2 linked regions of the Homo sapiens genome follow. The protein of the gene in region 1 interacts with the protein of each later gene in a pairwise test. Each region holds a gene or a part of one and is shown on either strand. Other genes may lie near its edges.

The links. Proteins that work in one complex are often made in the same cells at the same time.
Region 2: the proteins of SFT2D2 (region 1) and PLIN3 interact in binary tests that used the Homo sapiens proteins (3 or more experiments, as listed by UniProt).

The regions. Positions count from the first base shown.
Region 1 is NC_000001.11:168,228,159-168,236,511, reverse strand, and holds part of SFT2D2 (vesicle transport protein SFT2B), read right to left. Parts: intron 4,999-8,353; coding exon 4,912-4,998; intron 4,679-4,911; coding exon 4,593-4,678; intron 1,412-4,592; coding exon 1,330-1,411; intron 1-1,329. UniProt on the Homo sapiens protein: May be involved in fusion of retrograde transport vesicles derived from an endocytic compartment with the Golgi complex.
Region 2 is NC_000019.10:4,843,515-4,851,475, reverse strand, and holds part of PLIN3 (perilipin-3), read left to right. Parts: intron 1-3,585; coding exon 3,586-3,785; intron 3,786-6,682; coding exon 6,683-6,808; intron 6,809-7,961. UniProt on the Homo sapiens protein: Structural component of lipid droplets, which is required for the formation and maintenance of lipid storage droplets. Required for the transport of mannose 6-phosphate receptors (MPR) from endosomes to the trans-Golgi network.

The sequences.
Region 1 (8,353 bases):
CAAATGCACAAAACTTATGCATCCTTCATCTCAAAGCAGTTAACCCACCTGAGCACCCATATTTGGCAGAATAGTTAAAAATCTCCATGAAATCAAACTAGCCAATAAAGATTCACATAGATAAGATGTTCTTTTACTTTCAAGTTTTCCCAGAACCTCTGCCCAGCAAACAAATCACATTTCAGGCCCACCCATTCATCCGTCCATCCATCTTTTCATTCAAATGCACTAAAGTAAGCTTAACACAAATCTTTCTATTTTAACTCCTACCAAATGCTAGTCTCTGCAGCAGAAAGCACATGTGAGGACAAAGGTTAACCTGAGATATCAATCTCACAGTCAGCATGCCAGTTACTTGTGTACCTATCACCTAACACTTTCCCTAAGGCCATTCTTAGAAAGCTCTTTCTGCAAGAGACTTGTCCAGGCCGTGGGCATCTGAGGCTGGCCAAGGACAACTGGTGCTAGAGCAGTCAGCCATGCCTTTCTTCGCCATCCTTCTATAACAATAACTACTCAAATATGTCCTAAATATTCTCTGTGTCCAGCATTGTGCCCAATACTCTAAAAGGACACAAAATAAACAGGAAATGTGGTCACAGCTTTTGATAACTCACCTATTTGAACAAATGAGATTATATAAATGAAACTAAAAATAAAAGTATGTTCTTCAAGTTCCAAATGTTGCAATAGCTATAAAAGTCCAGAGAATGTAGGTCTGGAATGATTTTGACAACCACAGGGAAGAAAATAGGCCAAAAATGAGAGGCATTTAGGGTCAATGGAACAGGAAGATACAACAAAGCTAAAGACAATGTTGTCAGAGCAGGGTACAAGGATGACAGGCCATAAGGAGGCCACTCCCACTTTGGGGAGACTGATGAAAAACAGTAATAAGTCCCCAAGTCAGATAATGAGGAATAAAGAGGCCATTCTATAAGACAGGACACCCACCCTAGAGAATGAGTCCTGTGTTTCTGAGTTATTCCCTCTAAGCCCTGCCTGTGTGTGGCTTCCACAGTCACCAGGAAGGTGTCTGAGCTCCCTTACTACCACCACACCACTGTGGCTCATCTGACAAGCAATGCCCTCTAGAGGTGCTTTTCAGAACTGGTAGCACCTTGACACCCACTGAAACACAAAGTAGGGGAGGAGGGGATCGTAGTATTACTTAGAGTGTTCCCTTCTGCCACATGGTTATAGGAATAGGGTAATAAGTCAAGCTGAACGGAAAAAGAGAAGAGGTCTTTAGATTTAAAAAGAAAAACATCCTATACAATAGAAATAAAAACTCCCATCTGAGAAGTCCAGCTAAAAAGCAGACCTTACCAGCACCATGATAGTTGCAATCAAACGAGTAGGCTCAAACATTCGCTTCAGCTGTTTCACTGGTCCCATGAGGAAGATGGTACTAAAAGGCAAACACACGCACACAAGCCGTTCAGAACAGAACTGCACTAGGCACACTGAGTCGCCTCCCCAAGATTTCCTGTGGCAATAGTAGCTAACATTTGAAAAGCTCTCATTCTGACTGTGCTGAAGGGCCTTTCGTGCATTTTTCTCATTTAATCCATCAACAACCAACCTATAAAGTAGGAACAATTACCACACCAAAGCCCACAGAGTTACTTTATCCAAGGCCACCCAACTAGGGAATGATAGACCCAGGCTGTAAATGCATGTGGGTGTTACTGTAGAATCATATCATACCACTAGGTTGGATAAGCCTTCTCCTTGAGAGGTGTTACCTTGCCTCCCTGACAATAACTACTCATGGAAACAAACAAGGCTCAGGAAGTTTAAAGAAAAACCATACCTTACAGGCTTAGGTAGCTTATGTTAAAAAGTAGAGCATTTCATTTTCTTTCATAATCTTCAGGGAATAATTCTAATGATGATGATATCATCATGGGTTATTTGTTGAATGTTTGCTAAATGCCAGATATTACATATATTACCTCATTTCTTCTCCTCAACAACTTTGTGAGTTATGTATTACACTTATTTTAGAGACGAGAAAATCACACAGCTACCATTTGACTCTATAGCTATTGGATTCCAAAGCTCTAAAAAGACAGACCCAGCATGCTGGGTTTTTTTTGTTTGTTTTTTTTTTTTTGACATGGAGTCTCACTCTGTCGCCAGGCTGGAGTGCAGTGATGCAATCTCGGCTCATTGCAACCTCCACCTCCTGGGTTCAAGTGATTCTCCTGCCTCAGCCTCCCAAGTAGCTGGGACTACAGGCACACGCCACCACACCCAGCTAATTTTTGTATTTTTAGTAGAGACAGTTTCACCATGTTGGCCAGGATGGTCTCGATCTCTTGACCTCGTGATCCGCCCAACTCGGCCTCCCAAAGTGCTGGAATTATAGGCGTGAGCCACTGCGCCTGGCCCCCAGCATGCTTTCTGTATGAATGAACTTGAGAGATGGCTAGCAAGAGTAATCACAAATGAAGCAGACTGTCATGTCTAACACATCAACTTGGCATGAGCCACCACACCCGGCCAATAAGTCTTCCTCTCTTTGAAGTGCCATTAAGTTGCAAGGCTTCACTCTCAAGTGTCCCAACTAAGAGAACACTTCTTTAACCTACACCGAATAAGAAGCAACAGTCAAGGCTGGTCCTAAAAATTAAACATAGCATATACACAAAACCATAACAGACTACAGGCAAAGACACAAACTCCCAAATACCCTGAAAATAACAATTTGCTCCCTTTATTATTTCCCTACACAGTCTATGAAGAATCCAGCCCATAGGGATTTGCTAAAGAGCTCTTCTAGACTAAGCAACACACCCATATATTTATGCTCAGTCTAGACTATACAATGTAACTTACACTGTCTGCCCAAAACACCCCCCCACCCAAAGTTAGTATTGGAGAAAGCTTTACAGGCAACAAGAGACATCTCTAAGGGTCAGCATTTTACTGTCATAAGCACTAATAAATTAAGCTTTACACAGGTAGCCAGAATCATGCAATCAATCATTTAATTAACATCCCCCATTTCCAGCCAGACACAGAGCTAAGTTTGGGTACAACTGGGGACAAGATACACGTGCAGCCCTTATCAAGTGGCTTACAGATCTAACAAGTCAGTGTAATAAAATGCTACCTGCACTGGCACATAAATATAGATGTGATACTGAGAGTCCAAAGGAAGAGGTCATCAATTCTGGAGAGGAGGAGGTAATCAGGAAAAGCTTCATAGAAGAGGTAGCTTTTGAGCCAGGTCTTAACAAATGAGCAAGTATCTACCAAACCAGGGGAGGTACAGATAGGGCAGCATTCCAGGCACAGAAAACAACCAAACAAGGGCACAACGGCATTTTGGGAAATGCAAGAAGTTCAGCCTGGCTGGGAAGCACACTGGATAGGGAATGGGACAACGGTGAAGCCAGATCTCAAAGACGCTTGACTGTATGCGTGCTGAGGAATTTGGACTTCATTTGTACAGACAAAACAGGGGGCCACTTGAGGGGGCTAAGCAGGGCTATAAACGAATGGCTCTACAGCTCAGTGGAAAATGGCCTTGAGAGGGGCAATGGAGGAGACAGAGAGACCAAGCAGATGCATCTTGCTCAGGTAAGGGTGATAACAGGCCAAAGCTAAGGCCAGCTCAGATATCACCTTCTCTAGGAAGCCCTCCCTGACTCAGGTCGTGTCGGCTGCCCCTCCTTGAGAATTTCTTTCCATATCTTGTTATATCATGAGTTATATGTCTGTCTGCCTGGCAGGGACCAAACTGGACTTGTCTTTGTATCCTCTGAGCCCAGCACAGAGTGTGATCAATGCTTACCCATTGAGCATGCAAGTCAGTCAGTGAAGCACAAACAGCCATGGGGACAAAGAGGAAGGAGCCAGTAAGACAGGGTTACATCAAGCCCTGGTGAGGAATCATGGAGGGGAGACTTGGACCCCCAGGACTCTGAAGCCATTTACAGAGACACAAGGGAAGGGAAAAGGGGGAAACAAGATGACTGAGCTCAGGTTCCTGCAGGTCATTCAGGTAGAGGCCAGGCCAGTGCTCCCAGTTGGAGAGGGTGGAGTTGTTGGCACCAGTGTGACTGAAGCATCAGTGTGAATGAGCTTGACCTGGAAAATGTGTGCATCCACAACATGCAGAATGGGCTGCCCACCTCCAGGAAGCGCTCAGATGCCCTGCCCACATGAGCTGCTACTCAGGTCTGGGAAGGTCTGACACTAAATAAAAACCAGTTTCCCTTATGGCCACTGGAGTGATGAGCCCTTTGAAAACCATCAACTCAATCTCTGACAGCAGTAAGAATACAGCAAGCAGGAGGACTGGGTTGTAAACCCTGGAGAAATCACTGAACTGCTTTGTGTCGCAGTTTCTGTACATGTAAAATCACGATGGCAAAACATTTGCTGCTTTCTCCCAGGTGTTTCAAACTAAGATATAAAATGTTTTCAAATAATAAGATATGAATGTGAGATATTCTAACTACTTCTCTCCAAATTCCTTACAACTACTGGAGCCTCCTCTTTCACCTCCCTCAAGGGCAACCAACATCCATTTTCCCATCTAATGATTGGCTAAAATTGGATTTTTAAAAAACAGTTACCTCCCAATTGATGCGATATTACCAAAGGTATAAAACACTGCGAAGAGGTGTAGTCCCTTCCTGGGCACCCACAGCAGAACAGTACCCTGGAATTTAAAGTACAGTGTTTGCACATGAGCAACCCTCCCACCCGGCCACACAAGCAGAGCTCCCAGAGGAAGCCCTGAGGAGTCCGTTTCCCTCCCCACCTCCCTTATTCCCCTCTCCTCTCATCCATGCATTTTAGTGAAGGGCAAAAGGGGAAAGGAGGTGGACAAAAGGGGGAATATATAGCAAAGACAGGTAGAAGGAAAAGACAGAGGAGGAAGGGAAATCTTACCAGCAGTGAGCAGAGAATTCCTATAGCAAAACACGCAATGAAGCCTTTTATCCTGGTACTCCAGCTTAATGAAGATGCCTCAACAACCTAAAATTGAAAAAAAAAAAATACATATACACACACATTTACTAAAAACAAAGCAAGCACATAACTAAATCTAGAAAGTGTTAAGTTGTATTAGGGAAGGCAAGGAGCACAGAATCCTACACACTCAGGCGATGTAAGTCATCAAATCCAGACTTTATCAGAGCTGTAAAGTTATTATGCAGACATGAATCTCCTCTCTAGCAGCTGACAGCTGTGCCTCCAGCTGAACATCTTCAGAGGTAGAAACTCCTTGCCTCAAGCACAACCCATTTCAAGAACAGGAAGGCAAGACAGCCAATCCTAGAGTAGCCCAGAGCCTTCCTACAACCCAGGCAGGATGAAGACCACACCTGGAAAGGCATGCGTCCACCAGGGACTCACAAGTCCACCTGGGATCCTCCACCAGGCAGGGTCCCAGGAAATAAGGAAAAGATGAGGGGACGGCACTCAAGCAGCTGCTCCACTGGTCATCGTCTCCTACATCAACTCTCACCCACATTATTCACTCTTGGTTCAGATATTGTACTTACAGGATGCTGGCATCAGCCAACTCATCCAAGTGGGAGACAGATCCTGGTTAATTAATTACTGTCCTGTTACATCCTGAGTCTTTGCCATCATGATTAATCCCTCCCTGGAGCAAAGTTCAGGGGAAGCCAGGAGTTCCAAAAACACTACTGAAACAGGAGAGCCTGTGAGTAGCTCCCAGTGGTTCTTTTCCCATGTCAAAAATGACAACAGCCAGGCACAGTGGCTCATGCCTGTAATCCCAGCACCTTGGGAGACCAAGGTGGGCGCATCACCTGAGGTCAGGAGTTCGAGACCAGCCTGACCAACATGGCGAAACCTTGTCTCTACTAAAAATACAAAAAATTAGCCAGGTGTGGTGGTGCATGCCTGTAATCCCTGCTACTTGGAAGGCTGAGGCAGGAGAATTGCTTGAACCTGGGAGGTGGAGGTTGCAGTGAGCCGAGATCATACATTGTACTCCAGCCTGGGCAACAAGAGTGTAACTCTGTCTCGGAAAAAAATGACATCAAAGTTTTTGCACTGGTGACCCTACCAGTCTGTCCACCTGATGCAAGTGGGAACAGTTGTTCCAAGCTGGACAAAGACAGCTGCCGTAAGAGACCAACACCACACAGGGCAGCTAGGCCATGTATATTCACACAGGGCTCACCTTGTATGGCCAGCATAGTCTCCATCTAGCAATGTGGTCAAAGTTTCCTACTATATTTCCACCCAGCTGATGGAAGAAGGTAGGTAGTGGCAGAAAGTCAAGAGTCATTAGACTGGCAACTCCGTCAGCCTTGACTACCCCCAGCTCAGGGATCTGTTTTCAACCCTGTCTCCAGAGTTCCCGTCAAACCAGAAGCTTGAAAAGAAGGATGAGAGGCTCCCCTCAGGTGTGGCACGTATTGCCAAAGACTACCTTACTCTCCACTCAGGAGAAAGGTATTTAGGTCAGGTTATACATTCATATATATGGAACTGGGCTCATGACCCTGCACAGAAGGCACAAATTAGGGATGATAACAGACAGCAGGGGCCCAGTGTTAAGATCTGACAGATGAGCCACCTGGTTTTACGCTGAGGTAAACCTCTCCTGGAGGAGTCTGGTTTCCCAAACCCCCTTGGACTCCAAAATGAGCCATGTGATGATGCTCTGGTAGCAGGCTTTACAAGGCCCCAGACAATCTAGTCAGGCTACTTCGGACTAAAGCATTTAAGCTCTCGCCAAGGACAGAATAAAATGAGAAGCTACCACTCTTCCTAGTCATGCAAAAACCAAAGAACTTACCTTGCCAAGGTGCGAAAAGAACTAGCTGCAGGTGGGAAGAAAAGAGCGGTAGTAGGATTGGCCTGGCTTGTTCGTAGGAAGAAGAGTGGTAGTGGGATTGGCATGGCTTGTCTGTAGGAAGAAGAACGGTAGTAGGATTGGCCTGGCTTGTTCACAGGAAGAAGCATGGTAGTAGGATTGGACTGGCTTGTCAGCAGCAAGAAAAAAGTGGTAGTAAGATTGGACTGGATGGTTCCCTGAGCACCACATGGCATCAACACGGATAATTTTAAAAGATTCAACCTTTCTATTTGAAGAGGATAAACCATAAGGTTAAGAATGAAATTTGAATTGGCTTTGACATCTAGATTGCTAAATAACCTCAACAGAACAGTGAGATTCCAGAGAATGGCCTGAACCCGGGAGGCGGAGCCTGCAGTGAGCCGAGATCGAGCCACTGCACTCCAGCCTGGGCGACAGAGCGAGACTCCGCTCAGTCTCAGTGAGATTCCAGCCCTCACACAAATCAAAATAACCACAATAGGAAGCAGTTCAGCCAAGAATGTGTTTCTGGTTTCTACCTTCAGAAAGGAAAGTGACACTCCATATCCAAGTCTCTCAAGCTGAATCCATCCAAATGTTACTCTGTTTGCCAAAATGGAAGGGGTGGGGGGCATATTTCACCACTGTATTTTTCCATTACATGTGGTTGCAAGTTCTTTTACATTCACACTTGGTCAGGGAAGGAGGAAGCTGTTGTTCCACTTCTCATAACTGGACTCAGTGAAAGCAAAACACTTCTTTTTGCCAAATTATGAAAACAAACTCATAAAATGTCTGTAAATTCATGACTGCTGGAAGCTGTGCTAGCATATTGTTTTTGGAAATTAGAGTAGCTAAAATGGTACCTGGATGGAATTTGTAGGCAATGCGCTCACAGGCAGTCTGACTGGCAGTTATTCACAAAGGTCCCTTTCACTCTGTGATGTGGAGAGAAGAGGGGCTCTTGCCAAGAATAATACTAAGAATTGTTCAGAAAAACAGGATTGGTAACCAGAAGAAGGTAAGAAAGAAATACTGCTTCATTTCCACACTTTAAAATTAGATACTATTCATACCTTTCTTGTCCCCAGAATCCTTTATAAAAAACATAAAACCTATACTTTCAGAAAGAAGTCCATTGAAACTAAAGACTTAAGGTGTATTTATGAAGATGAGGTATCAATCACAAAATTCAACGTGAGGCTATAATTAGATACTGCCATGCAAATTTTATAACTACCTAGGAGAGGTAGGAGAAATAGAACTAGTCACACCTTTATGGTTTGCATTAAAGGAATAAAGGTTTTAAAAAGCACTCTCTTCTAGTGACCTCTTAAAGAGATTTTAAGAGCGCCTAATTCAACTTACCACACAAAATAGCAATTTCCCCACAGAATCCTCCAGTTCTACCAGCCCCCAAACCATGAAAAATATGAGACAATCAAATCAGTACCAATATTTTAAAGGAGGCTCTGACCTAATCAGTAAACACTAAGCTGAAACAGCCTGCAAGATGAAGTTAGTCGGCAACAA
Region 2 (7,961 bases), on another chromosome or scaffold:
TTTATTTATTTAGAGACAGAGTCTCGCCCTGTCACCTAGGCTGGAGTGCAATGGCGTGATCTCAGCTCACTGCAACCTCTGCCTCCTGGGTTCAAGCGAGTCTCCTGCCTCATCCTCCTGAGTAGCTGGGATTACAGGCACCTGCCACCACACAGCTAATTTTTTGTATTTTTAGTAGAAACGGGGTTTCACTATGTTGGCCAGGCTGGTCTCGAACTCCTGACCTTGTGATCTGCCCACCTCGGCCTCCCCAAGTACTGGGATTACAGGTGTGAGCCACCATGCCCGGCCCTTTTTTATTTATTTGTTTTAGAGATAGAGTCTCACTCTCTTGCCCAGGCTGAAGTGCAGTGGTGCGATCATAGCTCAATGCAGCCTCCAACTCCTGGGTTGAGGCGAGCCTCCCATCTCAGCCTCCGAGTAGCTGGGACTACAAGCACACACCATCACGCCCAACTAATTTTTCTTTATTTAATTTTTGGTAAAGACGGGGTCTCCCTCTGTCATCCCAGCTGATCCAGAACTCCTTGGCTGGAGTGATCCTACTGCTTTAGCCCCCCAAAGTGCGGGGATTGGGATTTTTGCAAATAAGTAGCTTAGGATATAGGCAGGGCGCGGTGGCTCAGCCTGTAATCCCAGCACTTTGGTGGGCCGAGGTGGGCAGATCACCTGAAGTCAAGAGTTTGAGACAAGCCTGGCCAACATGGTGAAACCCGGTCTCTACTAAAAATACAAAAATTAGGCCGGGCACGGTGGGTCACGCCTGTAATCCCAGCACTTTGGGAGGCCAAGGCCGGGCGGATCACAGGTTCAGGAGATCGAGACCATCCTGGCTAACACAGTGAAACCCCATCTCTACTAAAAAAAAAAAAAAAAAAAAAAAAAAAATTAGCCGGGCGTGGTGGCGGGTGCCTGTAGTCCCAGCTACTCGGGAGACTGAGGCAGGAGAATGGCATGAACCTGGGAGGCGGAGCTTGCAGTGAGCCGAGATCATGCCACTCCACTCCAGCCTGGGCAATAGAGCTAGACGCCGTCTCAAAAAAATAATAATAATAAAATAAACATTAGCCAGGTGCGGTGGCAGGCGTCTGTAATCCCAGCTACTTGGGAGGCAGAGGTTGCAGTGAGCCAAGATTGGGCCGCTGCACTCCAGCCTGGGCGACAGAGTGAGACTCCATCTCAAAAAAAAAAAAGCATGGGTACAGTAGGAGCAGGATTAAATAAATACATGCAGCTGGGCGCAGTGGCTCATGGCTGTAATCCCAGTACTTTGGGAGGCTGAGGCGGGTGGAGGTTGAGGTCGGGAGTTCGAGACAAGCCTGACCAACATAAAGAAACCCTATCTCTACTAAAAATACAAAATTAGCCAGGCATGGTGGCGCATCCCTGTAATCCCAGCTAACTCGGGAGGCTGAGGCAAGAGAATGGCTTGAATCTGGGAGGCAGAGCTTGTGGTGAGCCAAGACTGCGCCATTGCACTCCAGCCCAGGCAACAAGAGTGAAACTCCATCTCAAAAAAAATAAAGGCCAGGTGTGGTGACTCATGCCTGTAATCCCAGCACTTTCGGAGGCTGAGGCAGCTGGATCACATGGTCAGGAGTTTGAGACCAGCCTGGCCAACATGGTGAAACCCCATCTCTACTAAAAATACAAAAATTAGCCAAGCATGGTGGCACATTCCTGTAATCCCAGCTACTCAGGAGGCTAAGGCAGGAGAATCACTTGAACCCGGGAGGCGGAGGTTGCAGTGAGCCGAGATCATGCCATTGCACTCCAGCCTGGGCAACAGAGTGAGACTCTGTCTCAAAAAAATAAATAAATAAATAAATAAGTAAATAAATACATGCATATACACATATGAACCTACGAACATGGGATGAGGCCAGGCGTGGTGGCTCACACCTGTCATCCCAGCACTTTGGTGGGAGGATTAGTTAAGCCCAGTAGTTCCAGACCAGCCTGGACAACATAGACCCCATCTCTACAAAAAATTTAAAAATTAGCTGGGTGTGCTAGTGCACGCCTGTAGTCCCAGTTGCTATTTGGGAGCTGAGACAGGAGGATCACTTGAGCCTGGGAGTTCAAGGCTACAGTGAGCTATGATTGCACCGCTGCACTCCAGCCTGGGCAACAGAGCGAGACTGTACTTCAAAATATAAAAACCGACAAAACAAACAGATCTAAACATAGAAAAGGTACAGGAAGCCAGGTGCAATGGCTCACACCTGTAAACCTAGCACTTTGGGAGTCTGAGGCGAGCAGATTGCTTGAGTCCAGGATTTCAAGACCAGCCTGGGCAACATAGTGAGACCCCATTCCTACAAAAAGTACAAAAATTAGCCAGGTGTCTTGCCGTAGTCCCAGCTTTATGTAGTCCCAGCTACTCGGGAGGCCAAGGTTGAAGGATAGCTTGAAGCTGGGAGGTTGAGCCTGCAGTAAGCTGAGGTCGTGCCACTGTACTCCAGCCTGGGCAACAGACCGAGACCCTGTCTAAAAAAAAGAAGAAAAAGTACAGGAAAAATACGGTATATATGGTATTATAATCTTATGGGACCACTGTAGTATATGCAGTCCATTGTTGGCTGAAATGTCATTATTCTCTTTTTTTTTTGAGACGGAGTCTCACTCTCACCCAGGCTGGAGTGCAGTGGTGTGATCTTGGCTCACTGCAGCCTCCACCTCCCGGGTTCAAGCGATTCTCCTGCCTCAGCCTCCTAAGTAGCTGAGATTACAGGCTAGTGCCATCACGCCTGGCTAATTTTTGTATTTTTAGTAGAGATGGGGTAGTGCCATGTTGGCCAGGCTAGTCTTGAACTCCTGACCTCAAGTGATCTGCCCGCCTTGGCCTCCCAAAGGGCTGGCATTACTGGCATGAGCCACTGCACCCGGCCTACGGTATTATAATCTTATGGGACCTCTGTAGTATATGTGATGTATTGCTGGCTGGAATGCTGTTATTCTCTGCAGGACTGCATAATGAACATTCAGGCCTATATTCACAGGTTGTCCAAGGCAGGTCTGGCCTGCAGGCCATAGCTTGAGACCCTCCTGCTAGTCTAAGGTCTCTGATTCCTGTGAGGTTTAATTTTCCTTATCCCCGTTTTGCAGATAGGGAAAACCAAGGCAGAATCCTTTGCTCCCAGGCCTTCGAGGTTTATAAGAAGTAGAACTGGGTTATAAACTGGACAGCATGGCCAGGTGTGGTGGCTCACGCCTATAATCACAGCACTTTTGGAGGCCAGTTCGGATGAATCACTGGAGATCAGGAGTTCGAGACCAGCCTGGCCAACATGGTGAAACCCCGTCTCTACTAAAAATACAAAAATTAGCTGGGCATGGTGGCGGGCGCCTGTAATCTCAGTTACTCGGGAGGCTGAGGCAGGATAATCACTTGAACCCGGGAGGCAGAGGTTGCAGTGAGCCGAGATGACACCACTGCACTCCAACCTGGGCGACAGAGCGAGACTCCATCTCTAAATAAATAAATAAATAAACTGGACAGTGTGATTCTTGGGACTGTCTGCATGGGACGAGCCCAGCTGTGTGTTCTGGTCTTCACAGAGACCCTTCTCCTTTTCCTTGCAGCCCGCATCGCCACATCCCTGGATGGCTTTGACGTCGCGTCCGTGCAGCAGCAGCGGCAGGAACAGAGCTACTTCGTACGTCTGGGCTCCCTGTCGGAGAGGCTGCGGCAGCACGCCTATGAGCACTCGCTGGGCAAGCTTCGAGCCACCAAGCAGAGGGCACAGGAGGCTCTGCTGCAGCTGTCGCAGGTCCTAAGCCTGGTGAGGTTCCAGGGGGTCGGGGCCCTGAGCCAGCAGCCTTCACCCCGCAGCAGACACCCACCCAGAGCTCAGTGGCTTATTGCTCACCCCTCTGCAGGCTGGCAGGGCCATTCCCGCTTGCTCCTGGCACTGTATCTGGTTGTACACTCATTTGCTCAGGATGCTGCCACAAACCACACTGTCTGGGGCCGGGCACAGTGGCTCACACCTCTTTGTGTGAGTCCCTCAAGTGCTTTGGGAGCCCAAGGCAGGAGGATCGCATGAGTCCAGGGGTTTGAGACCCACCTGGGCAATATAGCAAGACCCCATCTCTACAAAAAATAATTTAAAACAATTAGCTGGCTGTGGTGGTGCGTGCCTGTAATCTCAGCTACTTGGGAGGCTGAGGTGGGACGATTGCTTGAGCCCAGGAGTTGGAGGCTGCAGTGAGCTATGATTGTGCCACTGCACTGCAGCCTAGTCAACAGAGCAAGACCCCATCTCAAAAAAAAAAAAAAAATCGTGGCCAGGTGCGGTGGCTCATGCCTGTAATCCCAGCACTTTGGGAGGCTGAGGCGGGTGGATCACGAGGTCAGGAGTTCAAGACCAGCCTGGCCAACATGGTGAAACCCCATCTCTACTAAAAATACAAAAATTAGCCAGGTACAATGGCAGGCACCTGTAATCCCAGCTACTCAGGAGGCTGAGGCAGGAGAATCGCTTGAACCCGGGCGGCAGAGATTGCAGTGAGCCGAGATCATGCTACTGCTCTCCAGCCTGGGTGACAAGAGTGAGACTCCATCTCAAAAAAAAAAAAAAAAAATTCGTACTGTCTGGGAAATGTAAACAACAGATATTTATTTTCTCACATTTCTGGAGGCTGGAAGTCCAAGATCAGAGTGTCCTTCTGGGGCCTCTCTCCTTGACTCGTAGACAGCCATCTTCTCTCTGTGTATTCACGTGGTCGTCCCTTCCCTCTGTGTATGTCTGTGTCCTAATCTCTTTTTTTTCTTTGAACGGAGTCTCGCTCTGTTGCCCAGGCGGGAGTGTAGTGGTGCAATCTCAGATCACTGCAACCTCCACTTCCCGGGTTCAAGTGATTCTTGGGCCTCCACGTCCCGAGTAGCTGGGATCACAGGCACTTGCCACCATGCCTGGCTAATTTTTGTATTTTTAGTAGAGATGGGGTTTCACTATGTTGGCCGGGCTGGTCTCAAACTCCTGACCTCAAGTGATCCACCCACCTCAGCCTCCCAAAGTGCTGGGATTACAGACACGAGCCACCACGCACAGCTCTAATCTCCTTATTGAAGGAGACCAGCCCTTTATGGATTGGAGCCCACCCTAATGGATAGCTTCATTTACCTTTATGACGATTTTTTTTTTTTTTTTTCCAGAGACAGGGGCTCACTCTGTTGCCCAGGCTGGAGTGGATGATCATGGCTCACTGCAGCCTCTTAGGTGCACCCATCTTGGAGCATATGTCTGCCATCATTCCTCTTTATTTATTTTTCTTTTCTTTTTGTGGCGCGATCTCAGCTCACTGCAAGCTCCGCCTCCTGGGTTCATGCCATTCTCCTGCCTCAGCCTTCTGGTAGCTGGGACTACAGGCGCCGGCCACCATGCCTGGCTAATTTTCTTTTCTATTTTTAGTAGAGATGGGGTTTCACAGTGTTAGCCAGGATGGTCTTGATCTCCTGACCTCTTGATCCGCCCGCCTCGGCCTCCCAAAGTGCTGGAATTACAGGCGTGAGCCACCGCGCCCGGCCTTTTTTTTTTTTTTTTTGAGACGGAGTCTCGCTCTGTCACCCAGGCTGGAGTGCAGTGGCATGCAGTCTCTGCTCACTGCAAGCTCTGCCTCCTTGGTTCACACCATTCTCTTGCCTCAGCCTCCCGAGTAGCTGGGACTACAGGCGCCCACCACCACGCTGGGCTAATTTTTTGTATTTTTAGTAGAGATGGGGTTTCACCGTGTTAGCCAGGATGGTCTCGATCTCCTCACCTCGTGATCCACCCGCCTCGGCCTCCCAAAGTGCTGGGATTACAGGTGTGAGCCACTGCGCTCGGCCGACTATTTTTCTTTTCTCTTAAACTTTATGTAATATGTAGAGATGAGATGTCACTGTGTTGCCTATGCTGTTCTGGAGCTACTGAGCTCAACTGATCCAACCCCCTTGGCCTCCCAAAGCGCTGGGATTGCAGAAGTCAGCCTGCTTCGTTCCTTTGGAAGGCTGAGTCATATTTCATTACAAGCACTTTTTTTTGTTTTTTGTTTTTTGTTGTTTTGAGATAGAGTCTGGCTCTGTCACCCAGGCTGGAGTGCAGTGGCGCAATCTCAGCTCACTGCAACCTCCGCCTCCCAGGTTCAAGCGATTCTCGTGCCTCAGCCTCCTGAGTAGCTGGGACTACAGATGTGCACCACCACACCTGGCTAATTTTTGTATTTTTAGTAGAGACGGGGTTTCACCATGTTGGTTAGGCTGGTCTCGAACTCCTGAACTCAGGTGATCCACCCACCTCAACCTCCCAAAGTGCTGGGATTACAGGTGTGAGCCACCATGCCCAGCCTACAAGCACTTTTTAAGCCTTTGCTGGTTCCATCTGCTCATGTCCCATTGGCCAAAGCCAGCCACGTGTCCAGGCTCCCTTGCAAGCGCAGGAGAAATTGACACAATGGGAAGAGCTACAGGGGATGTGCAGCCCTTCTTTGCACCAACCACACAGAGCCTGAGTATGTCAATGATTAAACCAAAGGCCCCAGAGCTCACCGTAGCCAGGAAACCCTTCCTCCCTCCCTCCCTTTCTCTTTTCTAGACTGTCATGTAAGTCAGATGCTGGAAGGATTCCTTGGGTTCCTTCTGGAATCCCGTCTCTCCCAGGGGAGCCTCCTTCCCTCACTTCTCTCTCCCCTGCCCCAGATGGAAACTGTCAAGCAAGGCGTTGATCAGAAGCTGGTGGAAGGCCAGGAGAAGCTGCACCAGATGTGGCTCAGCTGGAACCAGAAGCAGCTCCAGGGCCCCGAGAAGGAGCCGCCCAAGCCAGAGGTACCCATGAGGGGACTGGGGGGTGGCCTAGGGTACTTGGAGTCCCGATGCCACTCTCTACACCTCTGCTTCATGGGCCTACCTGCTTCGAATGATTTCCCTAGCCTCACCTGCTTTTGGAAGCTAATGACACCTCCTTCAGGAAGCCTGCCTTGATTTCTCCTCTTGGGCATGCATAGGTATGGCTTCTGTTTTTTGTTTTGAGATGGAGTGTTGCTCTGTCACCCAGGCTGGAGTACAATGGCATGATCTTGGCTCACTGCAACCTCCACCTCCTGGGTTCGAGTGATTCTCCTGCCTCAGCCTCCCTAGTAGCTGGGATTACAGGCGCTCACCACCACGCCTGGCTAATTTTTTTGTATTTTTAGTAGAGACAGGGTTTCACCATGTTGGCCAGGCTGGTCTTGAACTCCTGACCTCAAGTGATCCGCCCTGCCCAGCCTCCCAAAGTGTTGGGATTACAAGCGTGAGCTACTGAGCCCGGCCCCTAGCAGCAACTTCTGACTAGTATTCTCCGGCCCCCTCCACTCTATCTCAAGCCTTGGCCTCTTGTGTTCTCTAATGGGTCTCGCTGCCTGTCCCACCACCCACTTAAGCTCCCCAGGGGCAAAGGAAGTTTGCAGTGAGCCGAGATCGCACCACTGCACTCCAGCCTGGGCAACAGAAGGAGATTCTGTCTCAAAAAACAGAAAATGTCCTGAAATTAGATGAAGGTAGTATTTGCCCAACCTTGTGAATGTATTAAAAACCAATGAATCGTACACTTCAAAGGGCGAGTTTTAGGGTGTGTGGATTATATATCAATTTTTGAAATAGTTGTTTATTTATCTTTGAGACAGGGTCTCACTCTGTTGCCCTGGCTGGAGTGCAGTGATGCCATCACAGGTCACTGTGGCCTCGCCATTGCAGGCTCAGGCAATCCTCTCGCCTCAGCCTCCCAAGTAGCTGGGAACACAGGCGTGTGCCACGATGCCTGGCTAATTTTTTTTTTAATTTTTAGTAGAGACAGGATCTCACTGTGTTGCCCAGGCTGGTCTTGAGCTCCTGGTGTCAAGCAATACTCCCACTTCAGCCTTCCAAAGCACTGGGATTACAGGCATGAGCCACCACACCCGACCCCAGATCAATTATTTATTTATTTATTTATTTATTT